Regions from separate parts of the Homo sapiens genome. Here region 2 is linked to region 1. Evidence: fine-mapped expression QTL. A gene starts in region 1. The other region holds a variant in brackets. All regions are shown on one strand. Distances are from middle to middle. Region 1 holds the start of RIOX1 (ribosomal oxygenase 1). Region 2 has its middle 12 kb from the start of NUMB.

Region 1 (4,388 bases):
TTTTGTACCTAGATGAGATGGTTCTTCCTAGAAGACCTTCCGAGGTTTGTGACACTGAAGCAGTGATAAAGGTAAATGTGAGCACACTGATGCTTATCAAGGTAAGAACGTGAGTTTAAGGAAAAAAAAAAAAAAAAGGTAGCAGTGGCAGCGGAGAATCACTACTGCCTTGTTTCCAGCAATCAACAAGAAACTAATTTAGGGCTAGAGGCATCTTAGTGAGCAGCAGCCCCTTATCATACAACGTGGTTGCCAAGGACAGCTGGTCCTCCACACTGTCACAGGGCAGGTCCCCCACTCTCACAAACTCTGGATAAGAACCAAGCAACAGTTCCATGGCATCAGCTTGCTGGGGGTATATTTCCAAGCACTTGGGTTCTTCCAGATGATACACACGGGAGTTTTCCACTGTGTAATAGAGAAACAAATGGCCCCCCTCACCCACCAGCCGAGCTATCCCATCCTGAAGCATATGGACTTCTGTTTCTGTTGTCAACTGGGCCCCCACGTTTACAGGTTCTCCAGCCTCCCAGCGAATTGGAAGCCCGTAAACACTTAGTGCCCTCTCCCTATCAGTCAAAACAGGGGGCAGAGAATCGTGAATGAAGTCTTTGGCTCGCTGGTCGGCCACAGCATCAACAGGAGCAAAGTGTCCCAGGCGGGCAACCAAGACCCGCACCTTCTCCATGAAAGCGGTTCTTCGCGGATCCTTAGAATCTGAATGCTGGGCCCCCATGTAATCCATGAAGTCTCGGGGCAGACCCCTCCGAAACTCCACATTTTCTTCCATTGCAGCCTGCACTGCCAGAGGCAGTATGGCCTCTAAGAAGTCACCCCAGGTATTGCGCTGGTACGTGGACAAGGTGAGGTGCAGAGAGTGGACTCCATCCTGGCATTCAGCTTGGTGAATGAAGCCCCGAGGAAAATACAGCAAATCTCCAGGTTCCAGCACGGTCTGCAGCACCGGCTCACCGAGGTCGTCCTGACTGAAGTTGGGGCTGGATGTCAGAGCCAGTTCCTCGGTTGGGACTCGGGGTCGGTATACACGCCAGAGTTTCCTACCTTCCAGCTGCAGCACGAAGGCCTCGATGTCGTCGTAGTGGGGGGCAAAGCCCTGCGAGTTAGGGGGCGTGAGGTAAACGTTGGAGCCTGCCATGCTTCCAAACTGCTCTTGAAGCACAGCCAAAAACTGCCACACAGTAGTAGAGAAAGCCTGCGGACAGAGGAGACGCAGGGAGCAGCCGGCCTGGTACAGGGACCACGCGGCGGCGGGCAGCGCGCGGCCGGGTGGGTTCAGGGTCTCGCGTCGTCCGTTGATGTAGCGAGCGGCGTCCAAATGCTGGCCGAACTGCACCTCCTCGTTGCGCAGCATCGAATCCAGGTCAGCGGTAGAGAAAAGTCCCTGGTAGTAGGTGTGGTCCTGCCGCCGCACCAGCACCGCCTCGCGCTCCCATAGGCGCCGGTAAAAGTGATCTGGCGGCATGGGCGCGATGAGCCACTCAAAGAGGCGGGCCGCTCGCCGCCGGCTGCTGGGGATGCGGTTCAGCTCGGCCAAGACGCGCCGCAGCGGGGAGTCCCAGGCCGGCTCCCCACCCGTGTTATCCACCTGCGGCCCCGACGCCGTCGCAGGGGCCCCGGACGACTGGACGGCCGCTAAGTGTTGCGCGGTGCACAGCAGGGCCGAGGTCTCCACCACCCGGACCGGCGCGGCGGGCACCTCCACCAGGCGCGCGGGCGGCGCGGAAGCGGGCACCAGGCGCGCCGACGGGGTCTGCAGGGAGCGCGCGGCGGGCGAGGCCTCCAGCAGCTCTGCGGGCCCCAGGTGGCCGTATGGCTCTCGCCGGGCTGCGTCCGGGACGGCCGCCACCGCCGCCCCACCGGGTAGCGCGTCCCCCAGGTCGTCGGCCGTCGACTCCACCCTCGATTCCTCCGAGTTCTCGCTAGGCAGCGTCTGCGTCCTCAGCGCTGCCATGCGGGATACAACACTTCGCAGCTGCTTTCGTATCTTCCTGGACCTCAAGGGCAGGGCCAGGACCGACCCGCTGTGTGGCTGGGGCTTGCGCCGGCGCTTCGGCCGCCCGCGCCTCAACGGCCCTGCACTGGCCTGGAGCCCATCCATGGCCAGACCACACCAGTCTTCCCCGCCCGGCCGGCCGGGGGCGAAGCTAAAGCGGTTCCTGAATGCAGCGGCTGCGGTGCACTCTGGGAAGGGGGCGCGGCCTCCAGCCACCTCGGGGTTGGCCACGCCCATCATTCTTCTATTCGGCCCCTCCCGCTCTCTTTCATTAAATGTTTGGCTTCAAGCTGTAGCGGCAGCGGCAAGAACCCTTGCCAAACAAACAAGGAATCTACACTCAGAGAGCAATTTAAAAATCAAGTTGCGGCCAAGCGCGGTGGTTCACGACTGTAATCCTAGCACTTTCGGAGGCCGAGGTGTGTGGATCACCTGAGGTCAGGAGTTCGAGACCAGCCTGACCAGTATGGTGAAACCCCGTCTGTACTAAAACTACAAAAATTGGCCGGGCGCGGTGGCTCCGCCTGTAATCCCAGCACTTTGGGAGGCCGAGGCGGGCGGATCACGAGGTCAGGAGATCGAGACCATCCTGGCTAACACGGTGAAACCCCGTCTCTACTAAAAAAGAAAAATACAAAAAACTAGCCGGACGTGGTGCTGGGCGCCTGTAGTCCCGGCTACTCGGGAGGCTGAGGCAGGAGGATGGCGTGAACCCGGGAGGCAGAGCTTGCAGTGAGCCGAGATGGCGCCACTGCACTCCAGCCTGGGCGACAGAGCGAGACTCCGCCTCAAAAAAATAAAAATAAATAATAATTTAAAAATTACAAAAATTAGCCAGGTGTGGTGACTTGCACCTGTAGTCCCAGCTACTCGGGAGGCTGAGACAGGAGAATTGCTTGAACTCGGGAGGTGGAGGTTGCAGTGAGCCGAGATCGTACCATTGCACTCCAGCCTGGGCGACAGAGTGAGACTCTTGTCTCAAAAAACAAGAAGAAGCACAAAATCAAGTTACTAGAGACTCCCCAGGAGAAATGGCTACTTGACTGTTTTTTCCTTCTAGTCTCTGCACATTGCAGTGTTCCTTGGATGTCCTCATTTCTAAACAGGATGTTCCACCGGCAGGTTCCCACCAAAAAGTGCAGAATTCTTCTTTTCAAGGAATGCCCCCAGGCAGTTTGAGTTCCGCAGAAACTTCTGCTCTGCAGATGAATTCACTGATTGAAGCCTTATCTAGGAGTTCCTCCACCTAACTTCTCTCCCTCTTTTCTCCAATACAAATTCTCAAATTCATTGTCCTCTCTCTGAAAAATAAGTTAAGAATTTCTCTACTTGCATTCTTGATATCTGCCCTTCCTGCCCCTCTGGGATTTTGTTTCTTTAGCTACAACTTCTTTGGCTCTTAAACTCAGGATCTTAAATCGGCTTCTAATTTAACAGGCAATGTGGTGGCATGCGGGTGTAATTTTTGAGAACGTGGTCACTGTCTGTCATGCAACTAATTGCTTTGTACATAAAGATTCCTTGTCTTCATTTGAATCATTTAAGATAAACTCCCAGAAATAAAAGTGCTGGGTCAAAAAGTAAGATACTTTTTGTGATTATTAATAGGTTTTACCAAACTGCCTTCCAAGAGGGTTTACAATGTTTCAAGCAATGATAAGCATATTAGACTACAGTACATGGCCTCTAGGACCTTTCTCTGTTTGAGCTTTCAACACTCCCTCTTTCTCAGTTGCAAGCCTATCCAAACACTTGCCAAGGCTTTTAGATTTTGTCCTTACCCATGTCTAACATCCACCCTTTTTTATTTCTCACATGGTCTGTTACACACACAGTTATCAACTGGGGGTGATATTGTCTCCATAGGGACATTTGGCAATGTCATATAGGGGGCTAGGGGTTGTCTAACATCTAGTAAACAGACACTAGAGACACTACTAAACATTCTACAATACTAAGGACAACCCTCCCACAACAAATAATTGTCTGATGCAAAATGTCAGTAGTGTAGTGTTGAGGCAGACAAATCCTGGTTTATTACAAATAGCCTCCCAACTAGTCTCTTTACCTTTATTTTTTATTTTTATTTTATTTTTTTGAGACAGGGTCTTGCTGTGTTACCCCAACCTCTGTGTTGCAATGGCCCAATCTTGGCTCACTGCAACCTCCACCTCCCAGGTTCAAGCGATTCTCCTGCCTCAGCCTCCCAGGTAGCTGGGATTACAGGCACCTGCTACCACCGAAGCTAATTTTTGTATTTTTAGTAGAGACAGGGTTTCACCATGTTGGTCAGGCTGGTCTCGAATTCCTGACCTCAGGTGATCCACCTATCTCGGCCTCCCAAAGTGCTGGGATTACAGGCATGAGCCGCGGT
Region 2 (4,388 bases), 20 kb after region 1:
TTTCCTAACGCTTCTGAGTTTGAGACTCCCCTAGACAGAAGCTAAGTGGAGCACATCAGACTTCCAAAAGCCTCTGCAAAGCAACGTGGTATTGTGGGAAAATGGTAGATGCAAGTTCAAATAACCTACTGCTAATAATAAATGTGTGACTTTGTGAAAATTACTTTATCCTTCTGACTTTTACTTTCATCATTTGTAAAACGAGAAGAAGACTATCTCATGGGTCTCTTGCATGTGGTTCCCAACCAGGCTGCATGTTAAAATCGCAGTTTAAAAATGTGACAGCCTGAGTCACACCTCCTGCAAGTTAAATTGGTGTCTCCAAGGGTGAGATCCAGACACCAGTAGATTTTTAAAGCTTCACACGTCATTCTAATCTGCATCCAGGATTGAAAATCACTCGTGAAGCCAGGTGCGGTCGCTCACGCCTGTAATCCTAGAACTTTGGGAGGCTGAGGCAGGAGGATCACCTAAGGTCGGGAGTTCGAGACCAGCCTGATCAACATGGTGAAACCCCCATCTCTACTAAAAATACAAAAATTAGCCGTGCGTGGTGGCCAGCATCTGTAGTCCCAGCTACATGGGAGGCTGAGGCAGGAGAATTGCTTGAACCTGGGAGGCGGAGGTTGCAGTGAGCCAAGATCGCGCCACTGTACTCCAGCCTGGACGATAGAGTGAGACTCCGTTTCAAAAAAAAAAAAAAATCACTGGTGAGAATTAAATAATGTTACTGTACTTATGTAAATCAGGTGCCCTGTTAGTTCCTAGTCATTCCTCAATTTAAATTTCAAACCAGCAATTGACTGTGCTTTTGGTGTGTGTTCTAAAATTTTACCACTAGATGTCACTTTGACCATACAAGTTGGTTCTTGGAAGCTTCTGCTTCTCCGTTCTCAGAGTAACAACCATACAGCATCACCACAACCATTTGTTGAGCACCTGCTGAATGCCAGGCAGAGTGCCAATTTTCTTTCTTTTTTTTTTGAGACAGGGTCTCACTCTGTCGCCCAGGTTGGAGTGCAGTGGTGCAATCATGGCTCACTGTAGGCTTGACTTCCTGGGCTCAAAAATGATCCTCTTTCCTCAGCCTTCCCAGTAGCTGGGACTATAGGCACGCGCTCACCGCACCCAGCTAGTTTTTAATTTTTTTGTGGAGATGAGGTCTCCCTCTGTTTCCCAGGCTGGTCTCAAACTTGTGGGCTCAAGTGATCCTCCCATCTCAGCCTCCCAAAATGTTGGGATTACAGGCCACCATGCCCAGCTGCCAGTGATTCTTAGAACACATGACCTCCAGTCACATAACAACAAATAAGCAAGGTAGTTGTTATCCCAGTCATGAAAAAAGGGTTACAAATAATCTGTGACTTGTACAAAGATACACAGTTAGTGGCAGAACTGGGATTCCAGCTTCATTCATTCATTCACTCATTCAAAAACACTGAACAGGCTGGGTGCGGTGGCTCATGCCTGCAATTACTTCACTTTGGGAGGCCGAGGTGGGAGGATCAAGACCAGCCTAGGCAACATAGTGAGACTCCATCTCTACCAAAAAAAAAAAAAAATACAAAAATTAGCCAGGCATGATGGCACATGCCTGCAGTCCCAGCTACTCAGAGGCTGAGGTGGGAGGATCACTTGAGCTCAGGAGGCAGAGGTTACAGTGAGCCGAGATGGGGCCACTGCACTCCAGCGTGGGTGACAGAGCCAGACCCTGTCTCAAAATTAATTAATTAATTAAAATTTAAAAACACTGGGCCAGGCGCGGTGGCTCACGCCTGTAATCCTAGCACTTTGGGAGGCCGAGGCAGGTGGATTGCCTGAGATCAGAAGTTTGAGACCAGCCTGGGCAACATGGTGAAACCCCATCTCTACTAAAATACAAAAAATTAGCCGGGTGTGGTGGCAGATGCCTGTAGCCCCAGCTACTCGGGAGGCTGAGGCAAGAGAATTGCTTGAACCTGGGAGGCAGAAGTTGCAGTGAGCTGAGATCGCGCCACTGCACTCCAGCCTGTGACAGAGTGGGACTCTGTCTCCAAAAAAAAAAAAAAAAAATTTAAAACACTGAACACTTACTATGTGCAAGGTACTGTACCTGGTACTGGAAATTCAAAGATGAATATAGCATAGTTCTCATTCTCCAGATGTTCTTTTTTTTTTTTTCTTGAGACAGAGTTTCGATCTTGTTGCCCAGGCTGGAGTGCAATGGCGCAATCTTGGCTCACTGCAACCTCTGCCTCCTGGGTTCAAGCGATTCTCCTGCCTCAGCCTCCTGAGTAGCTAGGATTACAGGCATGCACCAGCACGCCCGGCTAATTTTGTATTTTTAGTAGAGACGGGGGTTTCCTCCATGTTGCTCAGGCCGGTCTTGAACTCCTGACCTCAGGATCTGCCTGCCTTGGCCTCCCAAAGTGCTGGGATTACTGGCGTGAGCCAACGTGCCCAGCCAGAAGTTCATTTTTAACCTTCACTTGTAGGTACATTTGAGAAGAAAAGGTAGGCACTTTTTTTATAGTTGTTCTTGGCCCCAGGGTAGCTCGGTCTTCGAAAGAACTTAAATGTTGTGTTCCT[A/G]AGAGGGTAGGATGACCCTTAGGTAGAGTTTTACACTGTATCCAGCCACTATGATAAAAGAATATTTTTGAGAGCTTATTAGGTAACTAAGAAGCTAGAGATCACATCTGGTCTGTTTTATCACTGCCTTATTTAATTATTTATATCCTCAGCAACAAACTATTGGCATTGGGTATGTAACTAATTTTTAATCAATAAATGTTTACTGAATAAACGAATTCCTAGTACTGTGTTAAACATTGTGCAAAAAGAGCCGTGACAGAAATATGTAAAGAAGCCTGCATCTGCCTAGGCGCGGCGGCTCATGCCTATAATCCCAGCAATATGGGAGCCTGAGGTGGGTGGATCACTTGAGGTCAGGAGTTCGAGACCAGCCTGGTCAATATGGGGAAACCCCATTTCTGCTAAAAGTACAAAAATTAGCTGGGCGTGGTGGTGCCTGCCTGTAATCTCAGCTACTCAGGAGGCTGAGGCAGGAAAATCGCTTGAACCCAGGAGGTGGAGACTGCAGTGAGCCGAGATCATGCCATTGCACTCCAGCCTGGGGAACAAAGAGAGATTCCATCTCAAAAAAAAAAAAAAAAGAGAAGAAAAGAAAAAAGAAGTCTGCATCTTATTCTTATAAGCAAATCTGAATATTTCCTTCCAAAAGTAGTACCTTGTTTTAAGTGCCTCCGCTGATTCATCCCTAAGGTGGGAAAGACTTAGAGATCTTGGAGAAGACTCTAAATGAGCCAGGGACCAGAGCATTATTATACTGCTTGATTTGATCTGTAGATTCAGGGTCTAATGACTGCTCTGGAGTTTGTTCTTATGTTGCAGGTATACAGCTGTATCTGTTTGAGTTGTCATTCATCAACCAAGCAGTTTGACAATTAGGACCGTAAGGATGACCAGGCTGGGTCAGACCTATCCAGCAGGTTAAAGGTTATTCAAGTTATTCAAGTAGTGGTCCTCAAACCTGGTTATAAATCAGAATCACCTGGGGGAGCTTTGCAACTATATACAGACCCCACTCCAACCTACTGAGTTGGAATACTAGGACCTAGGAGAGAGACATGAGACTTTCACATAGGACTAGGGTTGAAAATGAGTAGTTCAAGATCCATCCAGTTTTACTCATATATGGCTCTGCAATTCATAAATGTTGCCCTGATTTTTTTTCTGTATTCTGATTGTATTCCCTCCCTGGGTAATGAGTGCCATGCATTTACTACCTACAGTTTGGAGTAGTCTTCCTTTATATTGGTCCTAAGCTTAACTCTCCTGGAACTTTGTAAGAGACATTGAAACCTAAGATTTGGGGATTTGAGAGATGAGTTCATGTTGATCTTACGCATGCCACTTGTAATATTATAGGTTGAGCTCTCCCACAGAGCTTGCTTAGCAGTCACATGCCCATTCTTGAGATTTTTCTTATTTCACAAGGAGCTCTGGCTTTATCGAGATCCATTCTGCACCATCTAGACAACCTTTGTCCACTTCGTGCAATAGGAGAAAAATAATATCTGTTCCTCTGATGATTGTGACCCAGGATGATTGCAGCTTAGGTCATTCAGGACAGGTAAGCACTTATTGCCAGCTTAGATTAAAGTCCTGTTCTGAGTCTAGTTAGCCTGTTAGCTTTGGAGAGACCAGGAAGGGAAATATTCTTGCATTTAAGGGCTCAAACACAAATGTATTCATTTGGAATGATAATCTAGATGGTTCATAGAACAGAGACCAGAAGAGGGAGTCAAGTGGAAGTATTTGTGGTAAAGTATAGAAGGGAATAAATAGAGAAGGAAAATACTAGGGTCATGTGCCTATGTACCTGCCAA

What was found.
Region 2: its variant is fine-mapped to the expression of RIOX1 in tibial nerve (GTEx, PIP above 0.99).

Annotation. Positions count from the first base shown.
Region 1 is chr14:73,488,749-73,493,136 of GRCh38, reverse strand. RIOX1 (ribosomal oxygenase 1) reads right to left here and starts at 2,204. Exons shown (of 1, transcript NM_024644.5): 1 at 1-2,204. The coding sequence starts at 2,119. The coding sequence ends at 194. It overlaps HEATR4 (HEAT repeat containing 4), which reads left to right. Exons shown (of 18, transcript NM_001220484.1): 17 at 13-71. It also overlaps a transcript of ACOT1 not described here. RefSeq lists enhancers at 739-1,239, 2,428-2,537, 2,219-3,124 and a silencer at 1,588-1,877.
Region 2 is chr14:73,468,741-73,473,128 of GRCh38, reverse strand. No RefSeq gene overlaps it. Among named protein-coding and RNA genes, the nearest start is that of NUMB, 12 kb to the right of the region's middle. The variant A/G (reference allele first, on the strand shown) is at 2,569.